4 linked regions of the Homo sapiens genome follow. The protein of the gene in region 1 purifies or fractionates together with the protein of each later gene. This does not show direct contact. Each region holds a gene or a part of one and is shown in the gene's direction. Other genes may lie near its edges. The genes, in order: GCSAML, PLXDC2, ZMYM6 and SPAG9.

What was found.
Region 2: the proteins of GCSAML (region 1) and PLXDC2 purify together in Homo sapiens (affinity purification with mass spectrometry; one large-scale study listed by BioGRID and IntAct). This does not show direct contact.
Region 3: the proteins of GCSAML (region 1) and ZMYM6 purify together in Homo sapiens (affinity purification with mass spectrometry; one large-scale study listed by BioGRID and IntAct). This does not show direct contact.
Region 4: the proteins of GCSAML (region 1) and SPAG9 purify together in Homo sapiens (affinity purification with mass spectrometry; one large-scale study listed by BioGRID and IntAct). This does not show direct contact.

The regions. Positions count from the first base shown.
Region 1 is NC_000001.11:247,553,817-247,561,542, forward strand, and holds part of GCSAML (germinal center-associated signaling and motility-like protein), read left to right. Parts: intron 1-2,590; coding exon 2,591-2,650; intron 2,651-7,726.
Region 2 is NC_000010.11:20,142,649-20,150,374, forward strand, and holds part of PLXDC2 (plexin domain-containing protein 2 isoform 1 precursor), read left to right. Parts: intron 1-646; coding exon 647-769; intron 770-5,135; coding exon 5,136-5,254; intron 5,255-7,726. UniProt on the Homo sapiens protein: May play a role in tumor angiogenesis.
Region 3 is NC_000001.11:35,005,434-35,013,159, reverse strand, and holds part of ZMYM6 (zinc finger MYM-type protein 6), read left to right. Parts: intron 1-578; coding exon 579-729; intron 730-1,154; coding exon 1,155-1,270; intron 1,271-2,123; coding exon 2,124-2,402; intron 2,403-2,562; coding exon 2,563-2,713; intron 2,714-4,235; coding exon 4,236-4,408; intron 4,409-6,061; coding exon 6,062-6,209; intron 6,210-7,726. UniProt on the Homo sapiens protein: Plays a role in the regulation of cell morphology and cytoskeletal organization.
Region 4 is NC_000017.11:51,106,714-51,114,439, reverse strand, and holds part of SPAG9 (C-Jun-amino-terminal kinase-interacting protein 4), read left to right. Parts: intron 1-7,726. UniProt on the Homo sapiens protein: The JNK-interacting protein (JIP) group of scaffold proteins selectively mediates JNK signaling by aggregating specific components of the MAPK cascade to form a functional JNK signaling module.

The DNA.
Region 1 (7,726 bases):
TTAAACTATTGAGATAACCTCATGATTCTTCTCTTAGGCTTCTAAAGTAGTTAATTATGTTAATAAATATTTTTGCTAATTACCTATCTTTTAATTTCTGGGATAAAACCCATTTGATTGTGATGTGTGCAATTTTACTATAGTTTTAGATTTAGTTAACTTATATTTTATTGAGGATTATTGCATCTATTTTCATGATCGAGTTGGACCTGTGATTTTTAAAAATTTGATTTATTTAATTTGAAATGAAAGTTTACCAATCTCATTAAATGGGTTGGCATCATTTTACATTTCTCTACTTTCTGGAACATCTTATATATGAGAGAGTATATTTGTCACTTGAAGTTTGGTAAATTGTGTACGCAGCTGTGTAAGCTGGATTTTTTTGTTATTGATGTTATTCATGTGTCAGTTTTTATATTTCATTTTTTCCAAGATATTATTCATTTTAAGCCATAATGTTTATTATACATAATTCTTCATCATGCCTGTTTTATGTCTGTAATACTTATTTTGAACTTTCTGTTTTCATTATATTTTTGTCTCCATTCCTTATTTCTTTAGTTGGTCTTTCCAGACTTTTGCTATCTTACTGATATTATTCTTTTCTAAGATTTGGTTCCCTATCATATTTATTTTTACCCACAACTTTCTTGTTTCCTTTTTCTTCTCCCAACTTCTTAAGATAAATGCTTACTTTGTCATTATTAGTCATTTATGTTTTCTTATGAATGTATTTTAGCAAGCTATTTTCTTCACACTTCACTTTATCCTTCAAATAGTCTTGTGTAGCTTGCATTATTATTTTATTCTGTGTTTTTAGAAAGTTCCTTTATGATTCCCTCTTTAACATAAGGATTATTTAGAATATTACTTGTGCCTAGACAGGTACACTTTTGGTTATAGCTTATTGGGTTTTAATTTTACTGCTTGATAGTTGGAGAAATCATGTGCAAATTGTTGATTTTGGGGGATGTTTACTAAGACTTTCTTTGTAGAGTTATGAAGTCATAAGTCAACATCCAACATTTAGAAAGTTTAAAAATAAGAAGAAAAAACACAGAAGGTATAAAAAATTATTCATAATCTTAATTCTTTGGCCAAGATACATCTAAAGCTTAATAAAATACCTATTTTTGAAAACAATAGAGTATTAGTTGATTTATTAATTTGGTCAACAAATTTTTGTACATCACCTATGGCCTGATATTATCTGAATTCCTCTGGATTAAGAAAAACACTTTTTACTTTATTCACAGTAGAATTTAGTATCCAGTTATATTCAGTAATATTAATGGTGTGGAATTCCAATTAGGTCCCTACTGATGTTAAATACTTTTCCTGTCTTGTTTTCAACTTTAAAATACAAACATCCTTTAGATGTGTAAGTCAATGAATCACTAATAACCCCAAGGACAATTATTTTACCAAATTCTTTCTTTATTGACCAGTTTAGGAAGATGGAATCGTGAGAAAACTAGACTCCAGGAAAAGGGGAAAAAAGGAGACAGTTAAATTACTTTTTACCTGATTTACAATCTACACTATTAAATAAACATTACATCCAGATTTGACTGTGATCGTGACTATTATACAAAATCTCTACATCAGCAACTGATTCTATAAAAAGCCCCCACCTCTGTAAATTGATATTCCTTTATATTTAACAAATATATTCTTTGCTTAGTGGCTTTGTGTGTTGATATCTAGCAATGTTTCTTGAACATATACATATGACCTCTATTCAGGGAAGGCACTTTCTCAGCGTTGGTTCGAAATGCTTTCCCCGAATACTGCTGGTAAGCAGAAGTGAGGCTCTTATATGCAAAGCTACCTAGAAGCAGAAGGATAGACCAGTGCTGCAGAAGTGACAATAGAGGAAAAGAAAACCATCAAGGAAATGCTATGTGTGGACAACTGGTGGAGTAGAAAGTTTGATTAACCAAGTCACAAACATAAGCTGCTAACTATTGTGTTAACCACGCAAATCACCTGATTTCTCTAACTTCGTCATTTAGTGTTTGCCTGATTATCATAAAGATGATGATAATTGATGGCAAAACACCAAGAGTAATATGAAAAAGTCAGCTTTCCTGAATGTATGTAAAGATCCCAATGTCTTATCTGCACATGGATGCCCACATGCAGCAGGGCCCAGAGACGCTTGCTCTGGTTCAGTGGGCCAAGACTGGCAGTCCTCATAGTCCACAAAGGTGTGTACAAGCAGATCATCTTGCCTCAGGTTGTTGCAAAAGTGATGCTTCCCTGTTGTTAAGGTCTTTATAGCTTCCTGGGAGCTCTCACCTCTTCTAGAGATGCAGGAAGTTTGCATGTTGGGTCACAAGAAATCCTAAGACTGACAGAATCAAAAGTCAGACTATGGGCATTCTGTCCCATCAGAGTCCTGGTCTCTGTGGTTAATTTCTGAAATGCATTCTATCTGTGACTGCTTATTGATTTTGAAGGAAAGGGAAGTTTGTCAAAAAGAAAAGTCAGGTTTGGTTTTAATGGTCTAGAAAGTTAGAGAAGAAGGTGAAAAAATGTGGAGGGCAGTAACAATCTCTCTTTTTTCTTATGTGTTTCCATATAGTTGCCTGGGAGAGAATCAAAAGAAGCCCAAGAAAGGAAACCCAGATGAGGAAAGAAAACGGTAAGAACAGAGCATCTCAGAGTTTTTTTGTTTTGTTTTGTTTTGTTTTTTCATTGAGATTACTTCCAGAGTCTCTGCCCCACTAGAACTAACACCCCTTAGGGCCGCTATAATAGAGTTCTTTGGTGATTACCTGCATGACTTGGCAGCAGGTTAGACATTGACTCTGTCTAAATAAGAAAGACAGGGTATTAGCCACGTGTTTTGTTTCTATTGATTATATAATGTGAGTGTAGAAACATAAAGATAGAATAAAGGATGTTTGGTTTTGGTTGGTTATATGTGGTGGCCATATTTCCCACCTTTTCCTTACAAGTAGCCAGAATAATCTTTGGAAAACATGTCTCATTATGCCTTTTCCTTGCCCGAGACCATTCAGTCATTCTTCATTGCATTCAGAATAAAATGCAAACTCTTCACCAGGGCCTACAGTTCCATAAGGATTGGATTCTGCATCTCTCCCATCTGGTTCCTCACTCTCTACCTTCACCCACTATCTTACATGCATTCTCCTTTTATTTGATGTTCTTTAAGCCACCAAACTCAGCCTCACTTTAGGGCATTTCTACAAGCTGGTCTTTTACTGCACAATTAAAAAAAAATTCCATATTTGCATTTGGACTGATTGATAACGTCTCCTCCTGGAGATGCTGGCCCTCATGCCCTTCTCTGAAAGATTATGGAGGAACTTTGCTTCTGCACCGCATGGTTTTATGGCACTAGAACCTACTTATATTTGCTGTGGCCTTTATCTGAACTTGTAACTCTATATGTCGTTTGAGCTCTTTATAGTCCACTTCCTTCATAGACCATACGCACTTTAACGTCACTTCTGTTTCACTTGCTAATGTATATCTGTTGCTCAACCCTTGCAAGACACTCAATGGAAAAAAGAAAAAAAATGGAGTGGAAAAATGGTAGATATCTAGATGTTGATATCTTGCCTCAGCTTAGATGAACAGAAACACCCTGCCTTGTTGGTTAACTGTAGGCTTTTCGTATTCTTGCACTAAGCTCTTTTTTAATCATTTCATCTCAATGTCTTGGTTTCTGTCTCTGAGATGGCTTCTTCTTCTTTTCCATGGTATGAAGGGGCAGAGGATTGAGGAGATGAGCCAGGTATCTGTTGGTGATGTGAAATGATGTTTGCAGGCATCAGCCCCCTCCTAAATGTTTGAACGACACTTTCCTGCACAAAGGAGAGAGTTGGCTTCATGAGTCAGCCCTCAGGGACAGTGGAGTTGGCTATGCCTATCTTGTGACCCTTTCTCACGCTCCCCCGACTCCCCCCACTCCCCTTATGGTTTGTAGCTGGAGAGGAGATAGCAATGATTTGGTGATATTATTGAACCAAGGTTCTTTTATCAGCTGCTGTGAATCAGTTCTGTATAGCGTCTTTTAAACTAGACTTTTAATTCAGGCATTCCCATTAGGCATTTAACTTACGCATAAACTAGTCATCTAAACTAGGCTTTTGTTTCATCATGTCTAAAGTGAGATCTGCACTAGATGTCATTCTCTAATATTTTTCTGTTAAAGGAACTGAAGTGTTAACATTTTCAAATACCAGCAAGCCTTTATTACAATCAGACAATAACTAAATGTAGATAAATTAAATGTCGTTAGGGTTTTCTCATGCAAGGAAATTTTAGGAGCACGACTCATGGAATTTTCACTAGTCAGCATGGTGAGGAAGATCTGAACCATTTTACCATTCTAGTCAATTGCAGTCAAATATGTGTTGCATGTGGGCTAAGAAGTCAGTTTCCTTTTTGGCTAATTTCACAGGATGATGTCTATTGAATAAAGTTGGATTTTCTACATCTTCCTGAGTCAATTTTGATTATTGGATTCTTATCAGAATATTATTCATTTAAACATATTTACAGAAAGGACAGTATGAGCTCTTTCAAGTCACTTAACTTTTAAAATGTAGGCTTATAGAGGTATAGTACAGTAAAATTCACCCTTCTCATATATACAGTTTGATAAGTTTAGGAAAAACATACTCAGTCATGTAGTCACCACAATCAAGATACAGAATATTTCCACCACCCTCCCTTTCCCTTCAACCCCTGGCAACCACTGATCTGATTTCTGTTTTGCATTTTTTCCAGGATGTCATAGTATCATTGCTTTTATCTTTATTGCATTCTTATTTTTGCTTTCCTTAGTTTTTTAAATTGTTGCTATTCTAATTGTTTTGAATTCAAAACTCAATAATTTTGTTCTCAACTTTTCTTGTTTAGGAATGGAAGCATATATGAATACAAACTTTCCCTCTAAATAATATTTTACCTGTATCCTATGTGTAATTGAAGGAAATACTATTATTGTCTAATATTTTGCAACTTTTAATTTATTCTTGGACCTGAGTAGTTTTTAAATTTCAAATATTGTTTTATAGTCTTGAATATAATTTAAATTTTATTTGTTACCAGTATCTGTGTGGTCTGTGTTATTTCTGCTTTATAGATTTTATTAAAGTCTTCTTTGTCCTATATGTTAACTTTGAGACAAGTTACTTACATTCTCTAAATTTTGGGTTCTTCATATGCAAAATAGCCTTAAAATACTACAATTTTAGCTTGTGTTTATGGAAAAAGAAATCACTGCCTATTTCATCAGCACGATGGCTGTCTGGCACCAACACTCAATACATACTAGCTGGTATCTGTGCACATCATTATGTGCCTAGATTTTGAAAATATATTATGTAATATTTTGTTCAGAGATCATAATTTTGAAATTTGTCTGCTAGAGAAACATTATTGTGTATTTCAGATATTCACTGTCATTATTTCTCCTGCTTGTTATTAGCTGAGAGAAATTAATCTACTGGTTTATTTGAGTTACCTTTCATGTTTTCTTTTTCTTTCTTTCATATGGATTCTAAATAGTTTGGTGTGTAGCAATTCATGACAGTATTAGGTGTTTGTCGGTTTTAATCTTTATCATGCCATCTTCTGTCCAGCTTTTTTTTTCTGAAATGACGGCCTTGCTAAAATCTTCATCTTCCGCAGTGTGAGAAGGTCCCTGTGACGGGAGATCAAGGACACCCAGGGACATTGCAGGCAGCTTCCTCTCGGATAGGGAGGATAGAGGGAGGTCCTGTTTCATTAGTATTGCCTAGTCTAGTTCCCATATATCTATCTATATTCATTTACTAAGGCTCTTATAGCGAAGTACCATAGACTGGGTGGCTTAAAGAACCAAAATTTTCTTTCTCACAATTGCGGAGACTGGAAGTCTGAGATCAACATGTTGGCAGAGGTGGGCTGTTTTGTGAAGTCTGTCTTTGGCTTGTAGATGACTGTCTTATCCCTGAGTCTTCGTATTGTCTTCCCTCTGTGTTACGACTGTGTTCAAATGTTCTGTTCTTATAAAGACACCAGTCATACTGAAATAAGGCCCAATCTTATGACCTTGTTTTAATTTAATTACCTGTGTTAAGATCCTATCTCCAAATACAGTCACATTCTGAGGTTCTGGGGATTAGGACTTCAACATGTGGATTTTAAGGGGACATAATTTAGTTCATGAGAGATGTCAAGAAAATCTAAGAGGATTCTTAGAAATCCAGGAATTCCTGCCACTGTCTGGACATTTCCAGCGGCCACAGCATGCAGAATTGTTCCACTGTATTTAAGAGAGAGTGGACAAGCAGTAGGTGCTGATAATCCACAGCCCGGACTTAGATAGGTTTGGATTTTGTGGCTGGAGCCTCGGAACGACAGATAACTGAGTGGCTGAATTCCCCATTCACCAGCTGCTTTGTTACATAACTTCACATTTTACAAAGTCCAAATGTGGTTGTGCAGTAATGTTTGCTTTATTTCTTTCCTAAAGACCTCGTAGGTTTTAGATTATCTCAGTACTAAGACATTTGAGAACACATCTTCTTTCCTTGGAGAGTAATACAGTTCTTGGATCGTATCTTTCTCCTCACAACTTAGTGAACGTAATTCCACTCTGCAGCTGTGGAGCTGAGCCACCTTAAGCCGCCTTCCTGATGACTTGGTTTTACATACATTTTCCCCATGAAAGTTTGAAAACTCATTATTTGTTCCCTACCCCCACCCCCAAACATGTATTATTTTCTTTTATACATATGTCTTTATTTTAATTTTTTTTCTCACCTTTCTTGAGCTATGAATGAAAAACAAAAATTGTACATATTGAAGGTACACAATATGATGTTTTGATATGTATATACGGTGAAGTGATTACCACTATAAGTACATTAACAACTTAATATATTTATTATCTCAGACAGTTACCATTATTTTTGTGTGTGATGAGAATGCTTGAGATCCACTCTTTTAGCGAATTTCAAGCACACGTTGTCACTGACTATAGTCACCATATCTCAGTGTTCCATGCCATTTGTTTTTTCCCCTGTGAAGTCGGTTTTCAGATTTAAGTATTTATTTTATGACTTTTCTCTCATTCTACTTTTGTTTCATTTGTTTAGATTTTTTTTATTTTTATTTTTTATTTTTTTGAGACCAAGTCTCACTGTTGTCACTGGGGCTGGAGTACAATGGCGTGATCTCGGCTCACTGCAACCTCCGCCTCCTGGGTTCCAGCAATTCTCCCACCTCAGCCTCCCAAGTAGCTGAGACTACAGGTGCACACCATCATGCCTGGCTAATATACAACTTTTTTGTACAGACAGGGTTTTGCCATGTTGCCCAGTCTGGTCTCAAACTTCTGGGCTCAAGTGATCCATCTGCCTTTGCCTCCCAAAGTGCTGTGATTACAGGCATGAGCCACCACACCTGGCCTACTTTTAAAACTGATAGAGCATACTTGTACATATTTGGGGGGTACATGTGATATTTTGATAAATGTATACAATGTGTAATGATTAAATCAGAGTACTTGTGATATCCATCTACTCAAACACCAATCTTTTATTTGTCTTGGGAACATTACAATTCTTTTCTTCCAGCTATTTTGAAATATACAATAAATTATTATTAACTATAATTTTCCTCACTGTGCTATCAAATACTAGGAGTTATTTGTTCTAGCTAACTATATTTTTGTACCCATTAGCTAACTTCTCTTGAT
Region 2 (7,726 bases), on another chromosome or scaffold:
AGAGAGGCATTTGTGCATTGTCAATGTTTTACCACCTTACCTGCAAACATATAGACTTTATCTTCTTGACAGTGTGCTGATAATATAGAGGCTTGAGCAAACCAACAATTTGAAAACGTCACCATGGGTGTTTAGCCCCCTTTCAACTTTCAAGAAAAAAAAAAAGAATCAAAACATTTTCTGCATTTTACCAGATGTCGTTTCTAAAATTCCTATGCTGAGATGGTAGCTTACATAAATACCATGAAAATGAATTCACTAATTAAAAGGACTTGTGTGGTAAGCTATTGTTAAAATAACAAGGGATTAATAATAGCAAATTGAATATTTGAATTACTTATAATACTGTATTAGCATTTTTAGCCTAATAATCTCATCCAGATAATGGTCACTTTCCCCCCAATTAAAATTGTACATGTTATAGATTTCGGATTTGCAAGGTTCTACCAAATTATACAAGAATTTGTTACTTAATCCAGACCAAGTATTGTTAATTAGATACTAAGATATTAAATATGTTCCTTTTTTTCCAGCTACCATGACATTTTATTTTCATAATATGACTGTAATTGAGTTGGAAGTATTTTAATCATAATTTTATATGGGCTTCTTTTTCTGAATATGTTTCCTATTTTTCTAATTCTAGGTTTCATATACACTGGAGAAGTCGTACATCGAATGCTAACAGCCACACAGTACATAGCACCTTTAATGGCAAATTTCGATCCCAGTGTATCCAGAAATTCAACTGTCAGATATTTTGATAATGGTATGTGTTGAGTAGCCTATTTTTTGCTGCATGTATATTTTTAAACCTCAAGCATCAGATTCATGTTAATGTTTTTGTAAACTGTTTATTTTTTGGTGTGTAAACTGCTTGATGCAAATGGTCTGAGAGGACAAATATTATACTGCTAAGATTTATAAAGTACACAAATGGCATTCATTCATTCAACACATTTATTAACATCTACTATACACAGTAAAACTGAGTTGCTGTAGACAAGACCTCAGACAAAGCAAACGCATTTATTTGATGCTATTTCAATAAGTCAGTTTTCCAATTTTCCCATCAGAAAAAAATGGAAATAAGAATAATTTTGTTAGTTCTGATCTTCCAGTTGAGGCAAGTGCCATAATATATTGACATTAAATTTCCAAAACTTATGACTTGTATGTATCAATAAGATGAACACATATTTTAAGAAGTATAAAGTAGTTAGTTGTGGGTAGTTCAACTGAAGAAAATAAAGTTTTCTTGACTTTAGAAAATGAGTGAGAGCCTGTCAAGATTTATCAAATATACCAAGAGCAATGTATCCCTGCTATTACTTTTTGGGACATATAAAATAGAGAAAAAAACTATAATAAATCATTAAGTGGTGCCAAAATCCAAGCGAGAAATTCAAGGTCTTGGAGACATAAATGAATTTTCATCTCAACATCTTATTGAAAGCTGTAACTTTGGTAGAGAAAATAAATTATAGGTAACAAAGAGTTTATATTGCAATGATTAAATATAGAATTTTCTGTGTATTTATCATTCAAAAATGATATTTATTTGTTTAAAAGACAATTTTATGCCTGCAAATAATACAAGCATTTGGGGTGAACAGAGTTATTTCTACTTTTATCTTATTTCTGATGATCAAGGAAGAAATTTGCTCATGGTTGGAATAGACTTGATGGTAGCTGTAGCCTTGGAGAAATATGATCACTTTGCTAAGAGCCATCTCCTGACCAGTGTGATGAAAGCCATTTTACAGGTCAAAATAGCACAATGAGGAAACTAAACATAGTTAGACATTCACCTTAGGAAATACACGTTGAACATCTTGAGTAACACCAAGGTATGATCCAATATTAGGTAACTCTAAGTGTTAGCTGCAATAATGATTCATCTCTGTTATTTTAAGAACTATTATATTCTCTTCTCTTCCATTTTTTAAAAACTCATGAGGTGCTAACACCCAAGGATGTGCAAGTGGACTGTAAGTACACTATTCTTGAGGCAAAACTGCAGCCAGAAACTTATCTGAAACTTATTCTATGATTACCATGCAAAATTGCCTTGGGAGTCTATCCTACGGAAACAATAAATGATTTAGTGAACACTGACTATTTTCCAAACTCCGACATTCACTAGGTGATGTTAGGGTCATTTACTCATGGGCACATGATTCTAATGACCAAGTTTTTATACTGTTGCTATCAAAATCATAAAGCATATTAAATAAGTCTCTCTTCATATATTTTCATATACCTTGTTCCTAGGTAGCTCTTAATATTTGAATTTTACTCGTATTTGAATGATTTTTAAAAATTGATGTATACTACTCCAACTGAACTCTTAAGTTCTTTAAAAACAAGGACTGTGGCTATAAGAAATCATTTTATCTCCAGTACCCTGCATAGACACTTTATTATTTAGGACGTAGGTCCTAAATAATTATTCAATGAATGAATAAAAATAATTACATACGTAAAGTGAGTTTTATGTCTGAGAATTGTAAAAGTATTAATACTCAAGAATGCATGTATTGTTTACCCACTGAAATATCTTCTGTGTAATGACTTATTCCATAGGAATCAAATATTGAGGAATATTGAGTTCAAACAATATGATAATGAAAACTTACGTTTTATTAAATGAATGAAACACTTTTAAACACTGTAAGACTCTTCACGAAGCCCTTTTAATACCACAACAACTTGCTGAAATATTTTCAAGTTTAGTTAGAATCATTGACAGGATACTTAAAGATTGGAAACTCAACAATTTAGGAAAGCAAACTTCTCTGGAAAAGACAGCAGCAGGTTAGAAAATTTAAATCAGCAAATGTTGAGAGAGCTATGCTATTACATAATATAAAACTTAACATGTGCAAACAGTACACTTTTTTTTGTTTTTTGTGTTTTGAGATGGAGTCTCACTCTGTCGCCCAGGCTGGACTGCACTGGCATGATCTCTGCTCACTACAACCTCCGCTTCCCGGGTTCATGCCATTCTCCTGCCTCAACCTCCCGAGTAGCTGGGACTACAGGCGCCCACCACCACGCCCGGCTAATTTTTTAATATTTTTTTTAGTAGAGATGGGGTTTCACCGTGTTAGCCAGGATGGTCTGGATCTCCTGACCTCGTGATCCGCCTGCCTCGGCCTCTCAAAGTGCTGGGATTACAGTTGTGAGCCACCGCACCTGGTCAACAGTGTGGTTTTTAACAACCTGCTACTAACAAAATATTAGGAATCCCTTCCTCAGAATTGGCATTAAAAACTTTAATTTATATAGCCCTCTTATTTTCATAAATAATCAAGCGTAAGTATATTTTCTTGTATTTAATGCAGGAATGTCTTGAAGGCAAAAACTATACTCCCCATGTTATAGGAAAGGAAACGGGTTCATGCAGATTAATTGTGTCCAAGTTCACATGGAAAGTTTTATAGAGACAAGATGCAAGTCTAAGTCTTCTGCCCTCTGGTTCATTGTTTTCACTGCATCACCAGAGTGCGATAGAAACTAGAAAATAAGGAATAGACTAGAGCTTGAGGGTTGTAGACATGTGTGAAGGAAAAAGAAGTTAGGAGGCATTTCACAATCAGAAAATTCCTATACTTATAAAATCATGGGAGGTTTCCTGGCTACTGTCTTCTTTTGCTCTATTTTTTTTGTTTTCTCTTCTTTTCTTTTCTCTTCCTTCTTTCTTTTCTTTTCTCCTTCCTTCCTCCCTCCCTCCTTTCTTTCTTCCTTGCTTCCTTGCTTCCTTTTCTTTCTTTCTTTCTTTTTCTTTCTTTCTTCCTTTCTTCCTTCCTTCCTTCCTTTCTTTCTTTTCTTTTCTTTTTCCTTCCTTCCTTCCTTCCTTCCTTCCTTCCTCCCTCCCTCCCTCCCTCCCTCCCTCAGGACAATATAGACACGGAGATGCCCGTGGAAGGAAGAGACCTGAGTGGTCTTCACTCACAGCAGTGATAATGGCTAAAAGCACCAAGGTCAAGTTAAAAAACTTTTTTTTCTTTTTTACTTTTAAAGTTTTGCCTCAAAAGAAATACATTTCTTTACTTCAACATCCTTTCAGGACTTACAATTGGGTGTTCAAAATATTTGAAATAATGTGTCTATTTAAAATTGTCAACCAGCTCAAGAGATATTACTAATAGCACCAAATAGTTACTGAAAATTAATTCTTCCATGCAATTGTAATTTTTAAATATATCAGATATTTATTACTGGGAGATAAGATTTGCTCTTTTAGTTCTATGATTTTCATTTTCAGCACAACTTTTTTGGGCAACAGTTTTTCTAACCAAACAGAAAAATCTAATATTTAGAGTGAAGAAAAAGTCTTAGCAGCTCATTTCTTTTCTTTTTTTTTAAAAAAAGAGAGTACACAATGTCAGTTAAAACAAAAATTTGAATTCTCACTGGTGACTATTAAACTATGTTTCAGTTTTTATTTCATGCCCAATCGTTTATGGTAAACACTGACAGAGTGATTCAGAATATAATATACAGCACTGAAGTTTCATCCCAGTGTGCTTCAAGGGGACTTCAAAAATCTTAGTCCAGGGCCCTTTGAGCTTCTTACAGCTTCCTGGAAGAAACACAACAAAGACAGAAATACAAGCATTGTGAACTCAAGGAGAAAATTCCCATTAGTGTTAAAGGAACTCCTTCAATGTGGAAAAGTATAATTTTAAGTATGGAAAAGACATTTTCAGGTCTTTTGTATGTGGTCCTAACTTTTTAGATGTGTTTCTCTCTCAGCATTTGTCAAATGTATTTGAAGTTCATTCAATCCACTTGGGCTGCATTTTGAAAGTGGCTTATGGAAATTTAAGCAGACAGTATCTATTAACATTAATAAAATTCCTAAGGCAAAATTCCCCCACACTGCATTAGCTCAATTATTGACCTTAGTATGAGGTTCTATTTTACTAAATATTTAGAGAGTACTCAATCCTTTAAAAAAAATCCCAAATGCTATTTCAATAACAGAATTTGATTAACCACATAAAATCGAAATAGTACAACTACCAGATTTGAAGGCCAGATGCAAAAACATTTTTGTGAAAACTCCCACCAGAATTGATTGGTATGTTTTTCTCATTGCATTTCTTCTTTTTTCAATGGGTGTATAGGCACAGCACTTGTGGTCCAGTGGGACCATGTACATCTCCAGGATAATTATAACCTGGGAAGCTTCACATTCCAGGCAACCCTGCTCATGGATGGACGAATCATCTTTGGATACAAAGAAGTAAGTGATGCGTTGATAATTTCTTTCCCTTCCCCTTGTTCTTGACTGCTGCCTTTCCTCCAAATGTCAAGAAAGGGACATTTTACAGCCATGATCCTCAAATCATTTTCTTGCCTCTTGGTTTCCTTTGCTTAATAAAAAATGTTTTGATTAGTTTTAATTTTCTGGGTGCATTGATTGTTAGCTCTTTTGTATTCTGATATTGTTGGCATCAGGACTCATCAATTTCATAAAATTATTGAGTAATTATATTGACTAATTATTGAGTAATTAGAGTGAAATGTCTCTAAGAAAAAAAATTCAATTTGGAGGGATTTCTCATCTAAATGTAAATGTTTATATTTACGTATTTTCTTTAGTTAGTTTTTTTTTTTTCACCTGGTTGATTTCTTTGTTATATTTTGGTTCTAATTTCAAAAGCATTTATAGACACGAAAACTTATGTGGCTCAAGGACCCAGTACTGAGAGAGTTCTAGGATGGCTGTGCTTTGGCTAATGTTTGTTGAAACCAGATAGGAAAGATTAATTAGAGACCTAAGTGACAGAAAAAACAAGGAAATTTAAACTTAGGTTTGTTTCATTTTAACAAACTGACAAAGTAAAGAATGAAAATTTACTAAATTGTAGCCTTAAATTTACAGAATATTTAGACTAGAATAACTGTGTGTTTGATTTCCAACTCTTCTGACAAAGTAAGTAAGGCCTGTTGGACTAAGAATATAAAAATAAAGTTCCAGGAACTACAAATGTAATGTTTTAGATAGTCTCTAATTATGAGAGAAACCTGAACTGTGAGAATTACTAATGAGCATTATTAACCCATAGGTTAATGGGTATTTATAATATTACAGACTCGATATCTTATGTTCAGCTGAGGGATTACTTTTTCCTTGAGAATTGAATCCTAGATTATAAAAGGGATGTTGAGGATAAAGAAAGAATGCCCTTTGGTCAAATCTTCTGAAATCCATCTATTCCATAAAGTGCGGCATAATTTAATTACAATTAAATAGGCCAACTTTTAAAAATTCTGTAACCATGTCAGATATTTCTATTCCTTTAAAAACTTTTTTAATGAAATTTTTCATTTACTTGGGGGCAATTGTGTAAACAGGTTATAATTATAGACTATGTCTTACTCTATGTTTCTTTGTCCAAGTGTATGGTGTTTTTCTTTTAATTTTTATTTCAGGTTCAGGAGTACATGTGTAGGTGTCTTATATAGGGAAACACATGTCCTGGAGGTTTTGTTGTACAGATTATTTTCTCGCCCAGGTACTAAGCCTTGGATTCAATAGTTATTTTTCTTTCTTTTTTTTTCTTTTCTTTTTTTTTTTTTTTTTTTTTTTTTTGAGTTGGAGTTTCACTCTTGTTGCCCAGGCTGGAGTGCAATGGCCAGATCTTGCCTCACCATAACCTCTGCCTTCTGGGTACAAGCGATTCTCCTGCCTCAGCCTCCCAAGTAACTGGGATTACAGGCATGCACCACCATGCCCAGCTAATTTTTGTATTTTTAGTAGAGACGGGGTTTCTCCATGTTGATCAGGCTGGTCTTGAACGCCCTACCTCAGGTGATCCTCCTGCCTCGGCCTCCCAAAGTGCTGGGATTACAGGCGTGAGCCACTGCGCCCGGCCGATAGTTATTTTTTCTGATCTTCTCCCTCCTCTCACCTTCCACTCTCAAGTAGGCCCCAGTGTCTGTTGTTCCCTTCTTTGGCCCATGCATTCTCATCATTTAGCTCCCACTTATAAGTGAGAACATTTGGTATTTGGTTTTCCATTCCTGCATTAGTTTGCTAAGGATAATGGCCTCCAGCTCCATCCAGGTCCCTACAGAAGACATGATCTCATTTCTTTTATGGCCTCATAGTATTCCATGGTGTATATGTACCTGGTTTTCTTTATCCAGTCTATCATTGGTGGGCATTTAGGTTGATTCCATGTCCTTGCTATTATAAATAGTGCTGCAATTAACATACATATGTATGTGTCTGTGTGGCAGAATGATTTACTTATTCTTTTAATTAATAGAGTTTACTTTTTTAGAGTAGTTTTAGATTCACAGAAAATGATGCAGAAAATACACAGAGTTTGAACATACTCTTCTTGTCCTGCTGAACATCCTCCCCCATCATCGACATACCCCACCAGAATGGTACATTTGTTGCAATAGATGAACCTACATTGACATTGACACATCAATGTCACTCAGAGTTCTTAGATTAGAGTTCCCTCTTGATGCTGTACTTTCTAAGGGTTTTAAGGATGTATAATGTCATGCATCCATCATTATGGTGTCCTACAGAATCTTCCCTGCCCTAAAAATTTTCTTTGTTCTACCCAGTTTTTTGTTTCAATAGGTTTTGGGGAAATAGGTGGTGTTTGGTTACATGGATTTACATTCCTTTGGTTATATACCCAGTAATGGGATTGCTGGCCTGAATGTAGTTTTACTGGTGAGGTTGTGGAGA
Region 3 (7,726 bases), about 210 Mb from region 1:
TGGTAAGCATTCAGTAAGTTATAATATTGGTTATGTAAATGGTAGCTATTTTTATTATTTCTTAAAACATGAATAAACTTATAAGCAGATTTTATTATGAAACTCAGCTTGAAAAATAGGTAGTTGTGTAGGATCTCTATTAATATACATTAAATATCATTTCTATCTCCTGCTAAAGAATCTCACAAATTAAGTAACCTTAAAGGTGGTAGACTCTTCTAGATTGATGTACAAGACTATACCAAGAATGACCCTTTGGTTCATGGGTTAGCTGGTCTTCTCTGGTTATTGGTGATTAAAAAGTATGTAATGACTATTTAATTCATTACTTGTGTTTGAATTCATGTGTTTTGTTTGCTAAGATCTCTATCTGAATAGTTACTAATTTTCTTCAGTTTCTATTTTATTGTTGTCTGGAAGAACTTATTTTCCCACCTCCCAATAGTGTGGTTTCATCATCATGCTCAAATATTTCAACCAAGGACCGTGGTTGTAGGTAGCTTTTCTTTTTACTTTTTTGAACAATATGTAAATATGTATGTTTGTACTAGGTATCTAATGTTATTTTATTTTAATAGAATTCTGCCCAAATTCCTCCATATGCCCTGGGGAAGTCATTGAGGCCCTCAGCTGAAATGATTGAGACTACAAATGATTCAGGAAAAACAGAGCTTTTCTGCTCTATTAATTGCTTATCTGCTTACAGAGTTAAGACTGTTACTTCTTCAGGTAATGTTTAAATTTGATAAATTTATAGATTTAATAACTATTGAAGAAAAACGTAACTGCTTTTCTCTGATTTTGTTACAAGCTAAATTTATCTATTTAGTTAAATAAAAACCCAAGACTGACTTTTAAATAACTGACTTTTATGTGAAAATAGTTTTTCCCCGATTTTCTTGGTTGCAATATATACAGTATTTTATAATTTCATATGTGAGAGGAAAGAAAAAACACTTAAAATTTCCAAGTTAGTTTTTGTGTAAGTGGGACTTAATAGAGGTTAGTTGTGGTTAGATTTCAGATTTTTATAAAGTTCCTTGATTTTTTTGGTATATTATTGATTATTTAATTTTTTCATTCTCCCAATACATTTTTGTATTGTTTGTTCATTGGTATAACTTAATCATTGTTTTTAATTTTTTGTCACCAAGGTGTCCAGGTTTCATGTCATAGTTGTAAAACCTCAGCAATCCCTCAGTATCACCTAGCCATGTCAAATGGAACTATATACAGCTTCTGCAGCTCCAGTTGTGTGGTTGCTTTCCAGGTATGATCTAAGGTAGCACATTATGCATGTGGTTCTGTTAGGCATCGATCTGTGGCACAGTGTTAACTGCTGAAGGCCTGTTCTTATGAAAGTTTAAATTTGAATTAAAAAGAAAAAAATTTGTTTCATCCAGGGGCCCAACCAGGTCATTTCTACAAAATATCTGAACCCAGATATTGGGTCTCAGCAGTTTCTTCTTTATTTAGGATCCTAGCCTAAACTGTCATTCCCTCCCACTTTCTCCCTTGGGTCTCTCCCCTTCAAAAAGATGGAAGCTAGGATTGTGGTTTGGGTAGGTGGTATGGTGAAGAACAGTAGCCTGATGGGATTCACATACCCCTTCCTCTCATCCTGTGTCAGAAACACAGTGACTCCTGGCATGGAATTGTAAGCATCCACTTGTCCCATTTTCTCCTCCCTCTCTGCAATACATACACAAAGAGTAGAGTTTAGTAATCTCCAGGGTAGGAACATGCCTGATGTAGTATCCCTGGCATTAGGGAGAAAGAGACTGCTGGTAGCTATTGTGTCGTAGTAGCCATCAGAAGCTGGTTGATGATGGGAGTGCAGGTAGGGGGAAGTTTTAGGGGGAAGGAGAGGCCTGCTCTAATTTATTAGAGGCATATACTGGAGGTCTTTGTCAGGAAAGCCTGAATTCCAGTCCTTGACCTTTTAATGTTGTATTTCTCAGTCCTTTTATTCTGGAAATATACCATTTAAACTCTTTCTGTGAGATAGAAAATTTTAAAAAATGTTTGTGGGAGACTTGATTTATTAAAATGAGGAAATGAAAAGTACAAAGTTATCTTATTTCTCAGTTGATAAAATCTTTACCTTATTTGTTTTCATTCAGAATGTATTTAGCAAGCCAAAAGGAACAAACTCTTCGGCGGTGCCCCTGTCTCAGGGCCAAGTGGTTGTAAGCCCGCCCTCCTCCAGGTCAGCAGTGTCAATAGGAGGAGGTAACACCTCTGCCGTTTCCCCCAGCTCCATCCGTGGCTCTGCTGCAGCCAGCCTCCAACCTCTTGCTGAACAATCCCAGCAAGTTGCTTTAACCCATACAGTTGTTAAACTCAAGTGTCAGCACTGTAACCATCTATTTGCCACAAAACCAGAACTTCTTTTTTACAAGGTAAAGAGAGATCATGAAAGGGATTGTATATAAACTCATCCAGTAGAAACACTTTTGTGTTTTCAATTTTGATCACTCAATTTGCTTTGACATGAAAAGGAGTTCTTAAAGATAAAGCAACTGTTTAGTTGGCTCTTAATGGACTGTTGTTTCTCTGCAGGGTAAAATGTTTCTGTTTTGTGGCAAGAATTGCTCTGATGAATACAAGAAGAAAAATAAAGTTGTGGCAATGTGTGACTACTGTAAACTGCAGAAAATTATAAAGGAGACTGTGCGATTCTCAGGGGTTGATAAGCCATTCTGTAGTGAAGGTAAAGACAAAGTTGTTTTATTCACAGAGCATGGGTTGTTATAATTCATGACGACTTGGGCAATTAAGCCATGATTAGTTTTCACATTCTTTTTGTCTTACAAGGTGTAATTAGAAGTATTTTGGAGGCCGGGCATGGAGGCTCACGCCTGTAATCCCAGCATTTTGGGAGGCTGAGGTGGGTGGATCACTTGAGGTTGGGAGTTCAAGACCAGCCTGACCAACATGGTGAAACCCCATCTCTGTTAAAAAACACCGTCTCTATACAAAATTAGCCGGGCATGGTGCCGCACGCCTGTAATCCCAGCTACTTGGGAGCCTGAGGCAGGAGAATTGCATGAACCTCAGAGGCAGAGGTTGCAGTGAGCTGAGATCATGCCATTGCACTGCAGCCTGGGCGACGAGCGAAACTCTTGTCTCCAAAAAAAAAAAGGTTTTTTTGAATTGTGTTTATAGTTAATTCACTTTAAAGTCAATCTTTTTATTTATTATTTTTGTTTGTTTATTTTTTTGAGACAAGGTCTTGCCCTGTCACTCAGGCTGGAGTGTGGTGGCATGATCTTGGCTTATTGCAGTCTCTGCCTCCCCGGTTTAAGGGATCCTCCCACTTCAGCCTCCCAAGTAGCTGAAGCTACAGGAGCGTGCCACCATGCCTGGCTAATTTTTTTTATTTTTGGTAGAGACGGGGGGTTTCACCATGTTTCCCAGGCTGGTCTTGAACTCCTGAGCTCAGGTGGTACTCCTGCCTCGGCCTCCCAAAGTGCTGGGATTATAGGCGTGAGCGACTGTGCCTGGCTGAAAGTCAGTCTTTTTAAATGTTGCAGTAATTGCAATAAAAAACTGTAAAAATGATTACATCAGTGGTATTAATAAAGAAAATCTCTTCATAAGTTTAGCTATGACATCAGAGATCTTTTTGTTCTTGCACTCATTTGCGAAGAGGAACTTAAAACAGTTGCTGCTTCTTGGCTTAAAAAACTTTTATACCTCTAATGTTTCTGAATATAAATGGCCTAATATTTAGAGTATATTTAAAAGGTGGTGGCAGGGCGCAGTGGCTCACGCCTGTATTCCCAGCACTTTGGGAGGCCAAGGCGAGCCAGATCACCTGAGGTCAGGAGTTTGAGACCAGCCTGGCCAACATGGCGAAATGCCATCTCTACTAAAAATACAAAAATTAGCTGGGTGTGGTGGCAGGTACCTGTAATCCCAGCTGCTCTACTCAGGAGGCTGAGGCAGGAGAATCGTTTGAACCTGGGAGGCAGAGGTTGCAGTGAGCTGAGATTGTGCCACTGCACTCCAGCCTGGGCAAAACGAGTGAGACTCTGTCTCAAAAAATAAAATAAAATAAAAGGTGGTATGAGTTTGGTTTGTGAATATAGAGACTGTCCTGTAATCTAGAGGCAAATAATTGTGTATTAGAAATTAGCTTAAAGTTTCATATCTAAGACCACAGAAACTTATTATACCTCCTCAGTTAATGTAAATTTGATTTTTCTTCCTTTCATCCCTCTGATCCTCAGTTTGCAAATTCCTCTCTGCCCGTGACTTTGGAGAACGATGGGGAAACTACTGTAAGATGTGCAGCTACTGTTCACAGACATCCCCAAATTTGGTAGAAAATCGATTGGAGGGCAAGTTAGAAGAGTTTTGTTGTGAAGATTGTATGTCCAAATTTACAGTTCTGTTTTATCAGGTAAATGTGATAATATACTTTTTTTGGCTTTCTGAAATCAGTGCAAATTGTTTTTATTTAAAATGTATTCAAATTATGTGAAGAAAAATTTGGTGTTTAGCACTGGATAAAATAAGTTATGGGCTATAATAGAAAAATTCAATTGAATATAAACAGGAAATCTTTGGGATAAAAAGTATAGGATTTCTGCAGACTTTGTTGTTGGTTGGATATGTTCCTTTTATTTTTGCCTTCTTATGAGGCACTTTGCCCTTATTTGACTTCTTTCAGGTTAGAACTTCACATAATGTTGCCTGAAGTGGCTCTCTCATTCAGGTTACTCTGAGGAATTTGAAGTTAGACCTTGTCTCACTTCATAGGTCAAAGGACAATAGCTGGCAACCATTCCTACCTCATTTTTAAAAAGATTAACTTTTTGAAAGGCTAACAATGGTAGCTACAGTTAATTGAACCACTAATACATGTCTGGTGCTCTGTAAGTGTCATTTCATTTAATCCTTACCATAGTCCCAAGAGGTAAGTATATTACTGCCATTTTATAAATAAGGAAAAGGAGAGAGGTCCAGGGAAGTTAAGTAATATGCTCTTGAGGAAGCTGGTAGGTGACAGCAAGACAGCATCTATAACACTCTGGTAAATCACTGTTTGTTTTTCTACCTCTAAAAAAATAGAATTTTATTGTTGGGGGAGGGTAATATATTTTTCATGATTATATAATTAGGGCCAATCACAGTGCTTAAGACAAAGGATGTCTAATTAAATATTTGCTGAATGAATCAAAATCTTTATGACTCCAAAGCCCATATTATATCAACTACTGTAAGCTGCTGCTTAATTTTTTAGAAGTTGAACCTATCTTTATTTTTTTTTTACTTACTTTTTTCATTGTGTATCTTTTCTTCCCCCATCCCACCTGCCCACCCCCCATCCCCCAGCCAGACAGAATCTTGTTCTATTGCTCAGGCTGGTGTGCAGTGGCGTGATCAGTGGGCGATGTTGGCTCCCTGTAGCCTCTGCCTCCTGGGTTCAAGTGATTCTCCTGCCTCAGCCTCCCGAGTAACCAGGAGAGGTGGGCACCACCATGCCCAGTTATGAACCTATCTTTAGATAGATTCCCTTATTGGTAATTTTGAAAACAGAAGAGCATTTTTTTTTTTTTCTATTGAGACAGAGTCTTACTCTGTCACCCAGGCTGGAGTGCAGTGACGCGATCTCGGCTCACTGCAACCTCTGCCTCCTGGATTCAAGCGATTATCTTACCTCAGCCTTCTAAGTAGCTGGGATTACAGGCGTGCGCCACCACACCTGGCTAATTTTTGTACTTTAGTAGATACGGGGTTTCACCATGTTGGTCAGGCTGGTCTTGAACTCCTGACCTCATGATCCGCCCACCTCGGCCTCCTAAAATGCTGGGATTACAGGCGTGATCCCACAATTACCGTGCCTGGCCACAGTTTTTATATTATCTTGATTTAGGGCATCTATATAAAACAAATAATTAAATAAAATCAGTATTTTAAGGTAAGAACCTTACATTTTGTAGTCTCAACTGACTCATATATCCTGTTTTCGTAGTCCCTCTTTTTATGATTAATGTTATCTTTTCATTATTTTATAGTTTTAAGCCTATCTTGTCTAACATTTCTTTTTCAGATGGCCAAGTGTGATGGTTGTAAACGACAGGGTAAACTAAGCGAGTCCATAAAGTGGCGAGGCAACATTAAACATTTCTGTAACCTATTTTGTGTCTTGGAGTTTTGTCATCAGCAAATTATGAATGACTGTCTTCCACAAAATAAAGGTAAAATTAAACTTAGCTAATGGGATTTTTATGTCAGTGCTAGGACACTATCAGCATATACAGTTATAAATAATATAATAAAAACAAAATTTCATTGGATTCAAATAGCCTGAATTTCCTTAAATTTTTCTTTAAGAAGTCTTTAAGATTTCCCCTTGAGGGAAAAGTAATTCTAATACTTTTTGCTCTGATAGTCAAGCACACCAAAAGGCCAATAATGTATATGCACTAATTTTTATAGGAAACTTAGATTTGATTGCTTTTTGATTGAATGTATCTGTACATAAATAACTTAAACTAGGGATATATACTATTTAGTTAATAAACCAGAAATAAAAACAGAAAATCAGGGCAAACAAAGGGAGAGTATAGTTAATATAGTTGCTGTGACTAGTGTAAAATTTGTTTCAGAGCTTGCTTATAGGCAAGGAGAAAAGAACAACACGTTAATTATCTCAGAAAATATAAAATGGAACAGTTCTTCATGGGTAGCAAAGTTTATCCTAGCTAAGAATAAAATAATTTTGCAAGTAGGACAGCTAATATGGTCAGAATATCCAGGTGAGTAGATAGATCCATGATATATTCATAAAGTAGCTCTCCTAAGTATTTCTTTCTAAGTATTAGATTAAAAACATTTGGTAGCCAGGTGCAGTAGCTCGCACCTGTAATCCCAGCACTTTGGAAGGCTGAGATGGGCAAATTACTTGAGGCCAGGAGTTCGAGACCAGACTGGTAAACATGGTGAAACCCCATCTCTACTAAAAATACAAAAATTAGCCAAGTGTGGTGGTGTGTGCCTGTAAGCTCAGCTGCTCAGGAGGCTGAGGCACGAGAATTACTGGAACCCAAGAGATGGAGGTTACAGTGAGCCGAGATCATGCCATGGCACTCCAGCCTGGGCTACAGAACGATATTCTCTCTCTCAGAAAAAAAAGCCACTTGCTATTATGTTCTCTGTTCAAAGCCTGGAGTGCTACCTGATTGACAGAGCTTTGGCTCTTTGCAGTCTGGCCATTGCCTACCTCTGCAGTCTTATTAATGATTACCTTAATTATAAATGCCTTGTGCTAATCTTTCGTGTTAGCCCTCCATTCCCCAGAACCAGTCAGGCTGGTAGTAGAATATTCATTTTATAATATGGGTTAAGAAAACTAGTGTTATGGGGTTGGACAGCTCCCTCATTAACTTATTTATAAAAATTGTCATGTTAAGTTTTTATCTGATGCATGCTTAGGTCTAGGAGTTTTAATAGTCACTAATAGAACAGTCCAGTGAATCCTGAAGCTAATACCTGTCTTTTTTTTTTTTTTTTTTTTTTGAGACTAGGTTTTGCTATGTTGCCCAGGTTGGTCTTGAACTCCTGGGCTTAAGTGATCCCCCTGTTTCAGCCTCCCAAGTAGCTGGGATTACAGGCTGGTGCCACTGTATCCAATACCTGTATTTTTACCTGTTAAATGTCATTTGAGGTTTATGACTTTATAGAATTGGACTCTCTTTAAGTCCTAAAGAACACT
Region 4 (7,726 bases), on another chromosome or scaffold:
CAGGCTGGTCTTGAACTCCTGACCTTGTTATCTGCCTACCTTGGCCTGCCAAAGTGTTGGGATTACAGGCATGAGCCACCATGCCTGGCCCATTTTTTAAAAAATTTATTTTTGAGACAGAGTCTTGTGCTGTCGCCCAGGCTGGAGTGCAGTGGTGCGATCTCAGATCACTGTAACTCCCACCTTCCAGGTTCAAGCAATTCTCCTGCCTCAGCCTCCCTAGTAGTTTGGGATTACAGGCACGCGCCAGCACGCCCGGCTAATTTTTGTAGTTTTAATAGAGAAGGGGTTTCACCATGTTGTCCAGGCTGGTCTCAAACTCTTGACCTCAGGTGATCCCCCTGCCTCGGCCTCCCAAAGTGCTGGGATTACAAGCGTGAGCCACCGCACCTGGCCTAAAAAACACATATTTTAATATTTTTATAGATCTTTTGATTGATTGATTGAGACGAGATCTCACTCTGTTGCCCAGGCCAGAGTGCAGTGGTGTAATCCCGGCTGACTGCAACCTCTGCCTCCTGGGTTCAAGCGATCCTCCCATCTCAACTTCCGGAATAGCTGGGACTACAGGATCATGCCGCCATGCCTGGCTAATTTTTGTATTTTTTGTAGAAATGGGTTTCCCATGTTGCCCAGGCTGATCTTGAATATTTGGGCTCAGACATTCCTCGCACCTCAGCCTCCCAAAGTGCTGTGATTACAGGTGTGAGCCACTGCACCCAACCTATTTTCTTTTGTTGTTGTTGTTTTTTTTTTTTTTGAGATGGGGTCTTGCTTTGCCACCCATGCTGGAGTGCAGTAGCGCGATCTTGGCTCACTGCAACCTCTGCCTCCCGGGTTCAAGCAGTTCTCCTGCCTCATCCTCCTGAGTAGCTGGGACTACAGGTGCTCACAACCACACCTCGCTAACTTTTGTATTTTTAATAGAGATGGGGTTTTACCATGTTGTCCAGGCTGGTATTGAACTCCTAACCTCAGGTGATCCACCTGCCTTGGCCTCCCAAAGTGCTGGGATTACAGGTGTGAGACACTGTGCCCGGCCAACCTATTTGCTTTTTCTTTTCTTTCTTTTTTTTTTTTTTTTTTGATATGGCATTTCACACTTGTTGCCCAGGCTGGAGCGCAATGGTGCGATCTCAGCTCACTGCAACCTCCGCCTCCCAGATACAAAGGATTCTCCTGCCTCAGCCTCCTGAGTAGCTGGGATTACAGGCATGTGCCACCATGGCCAGCTAATTTTGTATTTGTAGTAAAGATGGGGTTTCTCCATGTTGGTCAGGCTGGTCTCGAACTCCCAACCTCAGGTGATCCGCCGGCCTCGGCCTCCCAAAGTGCTGGGATTATGGGTGTGAGCCACCACGCCCGGCAGCGGCCAACATTTTTTCATATTTTTAAAAATACCATTTTTTTTTTCTGAACTGTTTGTTTTTGTGATTTTTTTTTCCTTTGGTTGGGTTTTTTTTTTTTTCTTTTTTTTAGAGATGAGGTTCAGGCTGGAGTGCAGTTGTGCAATCATGGCCCACAGCAGCCTTGACCTCCAGGGCTCAAGTAGATCCCACTTCCTCAGCCTCTGAGCAGCTGTGACTACAGGCATGCGCCACCATGCCTGGCTAATTTTTAATTTTTTTTGTAGAAACAGGGTCTCGTTATGTTATGCAAGCTGAACTCACTATGTTGCCCAGTCTGGTCTGGAACTCCTGGGCTCAAGTGGATCCTCCTGCCTTGTGGATCCTGCCAAAGTTTTTTTTTTTTTTTTTTTTTTTTTTTTGTTGAGACAGAGTCTGGCTCTGTCGCCAGTCTGGAGTGCAGTGGAGTGTCTTGGCTTGCTGCAACCTCCACCACCTGGGTTCAAGCGATTCTCTTGCTTCAGCCTCCTGAGTAGCTGGGACTACAGGCGCGCGCCATCACACCCAGCTAATTTTTGTATTTTTAGTGGAGATGGGGTTTCACCATGTTGGCCAGGATGGTCTTGATCTCGACCTCAAGTCATCTGCCTGCCCCAGCCTCCCAAAGTGCTAGGATTACAGGTGTGAGCCACTGCGCCTGGCCTTTTTTTTTTTTTTTTTTTTGTAGAGATGGGGTCACACTGTGTTGCCCAGGCTTGTCTTGAACTCCTGGCCTCAAGACATTTTCTTACCTCAGCCTCCCAAAGTGTTGGGATTGTAGGTGTGAGCCACCACACCTGGCCATGGTTAACGATTCGAATAATGTTCACACTGCCCCTAGCCAGAGTAGATAGAGATATGCCCCTGCACCTAGTCATTCAGACACTTTCTGAAATGAACAATCTATGTTTGTTTTCTGGCGGGAGTGGGATGGGAAGGGGTATGGTTGTTGCTTTATGAAATAATAATTTGTTAGTTAATTATTACTTAAGCTCCTAAGACATTTTTTTTTAAAGACAAAGACTAGCTCTGGATTAAGACATCTTTTTTTAAATTTGAGATTTCTGAATGTGAATATCTAAATGAGATACCATTATGTGTCCCTGCTGTAGTGACACTCATATTTTTATTTAGTTAAAAATCACAAAAGAACGCTACGCATGGTGGCTCATGCCTGTAATTTCAGCACTTTGGGAGGCCGAGGTGGTGGATTGCCTGAGGTCAGGAGTTCAAGACCAGCCCTGACCAACATGGTGAAACCCCGTCTCTACTAAAAATACAAAAATTAACTGGGCATGGTGGCGGACGCCTGTAATCCAAGCTACTCCGGAGGCAGAGGAAGGAAAATCACTTGTACCTGGGAGGCGGAGGTTGTAGTGAGCCAATATCTTGCCATTGAACTCCAGCCTGAGCTACAGAGTGAGACTGTGTCTTCAAAAGAAAAAACAAAACAAAAAAAAATCACAAAAGAGGACACCAAACTGGGTATAGTACCAAACTGGTTCAGAGGGTAGATTAGTAGATTGACTATTCACTGGATTGCTGAAGTGTGTGCCATAGGTCACACATCCAGTTCTGTGCTTGAGAGAGTACAGGATTCCTGCTTCTTGAAATCTTTACCTTACCTTTAACTACATGCTGCTTACTTATGTTGTACTGAACTTTGCTTCTCAGGAGAACTGATGTTAGAACCTACCCAAGTTATTTTGCTCTGCTCTGCACTCAATGAATACAGCTGTTATCTAAATAAGTTATTAGGTTGTGGTCAGAAATATCTGCATAGACCAGTTTAATAATGTATGTAATGTTATATATATTTAAAAAGCTGTTATTTGGAAATGGGTATATATAAGTTCTGTTTTTTACTTTGAAATCTTGACCAGTGATATTTGATTATTGCTTTGAACATAGCACTGTGTTTTCTTTTCTTTTTTTTTTTGAGACGGAGTCTTGCTCTGTCACCCTGGCTGGAGTGCAGTGGCGGGATCTCGGCTCACTGCAACCTCCGCCTCCTGGATTCAAGCGATTCTCCTGCCTCAGCCTCCCGTGTAGCTGGGACTACAGGCGCCCGCCACCACACCCGGCTAATTTTTTGTATTTTTAGTAGAGATGGGGTTTCACTGCGTTAGCCAGGATGGTCTCAATCTGACCTCGTGATCTGCCCGCCTCGGCCTCCCAAAGTGGTGGGATTACAGGCATGAGCCACCCACCCGGCCATACTGTGTTTTATTTTCTTAAGAATTACAGCATTCAGTAGTTTGGCATAATAGGCACACCCAAAAATGTGTGAGGTGAACCATGGGAATTTATATATTAATGTAATAGAGAAGTACCAAGTTGAGGGTATAGAATTTTATTTTATGTTATTTTTTTCGAGACAAGGTCTGGCCCAGGTTGGAGTGCAGTGGTGCGATCTTGGCTCACTGCAACTGTTGCCTCTTGGGCTCAAGCCATCCTTCCGTCTCAGCCTCCCAAGTAGATGGGACTACAGGTGTACACCACCACGCCCAGCTAATTTTTGATATTTTGTAAAGACGGGTTTCACCATGTTGCCCAGGCTGGTCTCGAATTTGTGAGCTCAAGTGATCTGCCTGCCTCGGCCTCCCAAAGTGCTGGGATTACAAGCGTGAGCCACCACGTCCAGCTAGGGTTTTTTTTTTTTTTTTGTAAGGTTAGTAAACTTTTTCAGTAAATCCACCACCACCCCTCCCAGCTTTTTATTAGGTAAACTTTCAAACATATAGAAAAATGGAAAGTACATTTGTCATTTGTATACCCACTATATAGATTCAGTAGTTGTTGTTTTATTTATCTGTCTGTATATGTGGATGTGTGGGTGTGGATACACATATACACACATACACATATTTAATTGCTGAACCATTTTAAATTGCAGACATACTTTGCCCCTCAGTACTTAACATATTTAAATTACAGACATTATGATACTTTGCCTCTCAGTACTTAACATATTTATCTCCTAAAAAATGAGAATATTCTGCCATATAACCACCATATTATTTACGTTTGAGAACATTTCCAAGGCCGAGTGTAGTAGCTAATGCCTGTAATCCCAGCACTTTGGGAGGCTGAGGTGGGCGGAACACTTGAGCTCATGAGTTGAAGATCAGCCTGGGTAACATAGCAAAACCTTGTCTCTACAAAAAATATAAAAATTAGCGTGGTGTGGTGGTGTGTGCCTATAGTCCCAGCTACTTGGGGGGCCGAGGCAGGAGGATCGCACCAGCCTAGGAAGTCAAGGCTGAGGTAAGATGTGTTCATGCCACTGTGCTCCAGCCTGGGCAACACAGTGAGACTCTGTCAAAAAGAAAAGAAAAGAAAAAAAAGAACCTTTGTAATATCATCTAATATTAATTTGAATTAATTTTTAAGAGCACAGTATGTGTCAGTTATTATATAGCTAACTAGCTTCTTAATATGTTTATAATGAATTAATGAAACTCATCTGGGAGGAAGTGTTTGCATTTTAGTTACTTTTCTATAAGAAATTTAAATTTGAGGCCGGACGCAGTGGCTCACGCCTGTAATCCCAGCACTTTGGAAGGCCGAGGTGGGCAGATCACGAGGTCAAGAGTTCGAGACCAGCCTGACCAACATGGTGAAACCCCGTCTCTACTAAAAATACAAAAATTAGCTGGGCATGGTGGTGTGTGCCTGTAATCCCAGCTACTCCGGAGGCTGAAGCAAGAGAATCACTTGAACCTGGGAGGTGGAGGTTGTGGTGAGCTGAGATCGTGCCACGGCACTCCAGCCTAGGCGACAGAGCAAGACTCCATCTCAAAAAAGAAAAAAGAAAAAGAAAAAGAAATTTAAATGTGAAATATATAAAACGGAATTAAAATTGGCTAATTTTGTTTTAAAATTAGCACATTGGCCAGGCGTGGTGGCTCATGCCTGTAATCTTAGCACTTGGGGAGTCTGAGGCGGGCGGATCACCTGAGGTCAGGAGTTCGAGACCAGCCTGACCAACATGGAGAAACCCTGTCTCTACTAAAAATATAAAAGTAGCTGGGCTTGGTGGTGCACGTCTGTAATCCCAGCTACTCAGGAGGCTGAGGCAGGAGAATCGCTTGAACCCAGGAGGCTGAGGCAGGAGAATCATGTGAACCCGGGAGGTGGAGGTTGCAGTGAGCTGAGATCATGCCATTGCACTCCAGCCTGGGCAACAAGAGCGAAACTTTTGTCTCAAAAAAAAATAAAAATAAATAAATAAAATTATCACATAAAAACTATTATGGACCAGGCACAGTGGCTCATGCTTATAATCTTAGCAGTTTGGGAGGCCAAGGAAGGAGGATAGCTTGAGCCCCAGAGTTCCAGAACAGCCTGGGCAACATAGTGAGACCGTATCTTTACAAAAAATAGAAAAATTAGCCGAGTGTGGTGGTATGCACCTGTGGCTCCAGCTACTTGAGACGCTGAGGTGGGAGGATCCCTTGAGCCCAGGAGGTTGAGGTTGCAATGACCCCTGATTGTGCCACTGCACTCTGGCACACAGCACCACTTGCTCTGGGTGACAGAGCAAGACCCTGTCTCAAAAAGAAAACAAATTATTTTTCCCCTTTTTGAAACTTTGAGATATAGAAATACAGAAAATGACCCTATATTTAATATTTTTGCTAGTAACTATTTTTTTTTTTTTTTTTTGAGACAGTCTTTCGCTTTGTCACCTAGGCTGGAGTGTAGTGGTGCAATTTCATCTCACCACAACCTCTGCCTCCTGGGTTCAAGTGATTCTTGTGCCTCAGCCTTCTGAGTAGCTGGGACTACAGGTGCCTGCCACCACACCCAGCTAATTTTTGTATTTTTAGTAGAGACGGGGTTTTGCCATGTTGACCATGCTGGTCTTGAACTTGCAACCTCAGGTGACCTGCCTGCCTCAGCCTCCCAAAATGCTGGGATAACCAGCACCAGCCACCGCCCCATGGCCATCTTTTTTTTTTTTTTTTCTTAAATCATGTATTTCCAGGATATCTTGTTTCTGACTTGTTTACCTACTCTGCCAGGGTTATAGAGCCTGAGAAATTCTTTTACCTGCTGATAAGATTTCCTCTGGGGTATAGGCCTGGAATTTTTATGATTCTGGATTCTATTACTGCCCCCCTCCCTTTTTTTTTTTGAGACAGTGTCTCATGCTATTGCCCAGGCTGGAGAGCAGTGTTGCAATCAGAGCTCACTGTAGCCTCAACCTCCTGGGCTCAAGCTATCCCCCTACCTTAGCCTCCCAAGTAACTGAGATTATAGTTGTGAGCCACATGCAACATCTATTATTGCCTTTTTTTTTTTTTTAACCTTTTTTTTGATGGAGTCTTGCTGTCGCCCAGGCTGGAGTGCAATGGCATGATCTCGGCTCACTGCAACCTCCACCTCCCGGGTTCAAGCAATTCTCCTGCCTCAGCCTCCCGAGTAGCTGAGAGTATAGGCGCGTGCCACCATGCCCAGCTAATTTTTGTAGTTTTAGTAGAGATGGGGTTTTACCATATTGGCCAGGCTGGTCTCAAACTCCTAACCTTGTGATCTGCCCACCTTGGCCTCCCAAAGTGCTGGGATTACAGGCGTGAGCCACCGTGTCTGACTATTATTGCCCTTTAAAGTGTGTTTTCTCTTGTTCTTCCTGCAGTTTTAATTAAATTAATTAATTTTTTTTGGTAGGGATGGGGGTCAGACTATGTTGCCCAGGCTGGTCTCAAACTCCTGGCCTCAAATGATCTGCCGCCTTGGCCTCCCAAGGTGCTGGGATTGCAGGTGTGAGCCACTGCATCCGGCCTTCCTGCAGTTTCTTTTAAAGAGCTGGACAGGAACTTTATGATTCTCTAGTTCTACCTTATCCCATTCCCCCAAGTAGGTGGAAAGATAAACAGAAACATAGATGCTTAGAAAGAACAAATATTTATTGAGCCAGGCTCTGTTCTTTTTCTTTTTTTTTTTTTTTTGAGATGGAGCACTCGCTCTTGCCCAGGCTAGAGTGCAGTGGCGGGATCTTGGCTCGCTGCAACCTCCGCCTCCCGGGTTCAAGCGATTCTTCTGCCTCAGCCTTCCAAGTAGCTGGGACTACAGGCGTGCACCGCCATGCTTGGCTAATTTTTGTATTTTTAGTAGAGACGGGGTTTCACCATATTAGCCAGGCTGGTCTTGAACTCCTGACCTTGTGATCTGCACACTTCAGCCTCCCAAAGTGCTAGGATTACAGGCGTGAGCCACTGCACCCGGACTTTTTTATTTTTATTTTTAAAAATTAAGACAGAGTCTTGCTCTATTGCCCAGACTGGAGTGCAGTGGCTTGATCTTGGATCACTGCAACCTCCGCCTCCCAGGTTCAA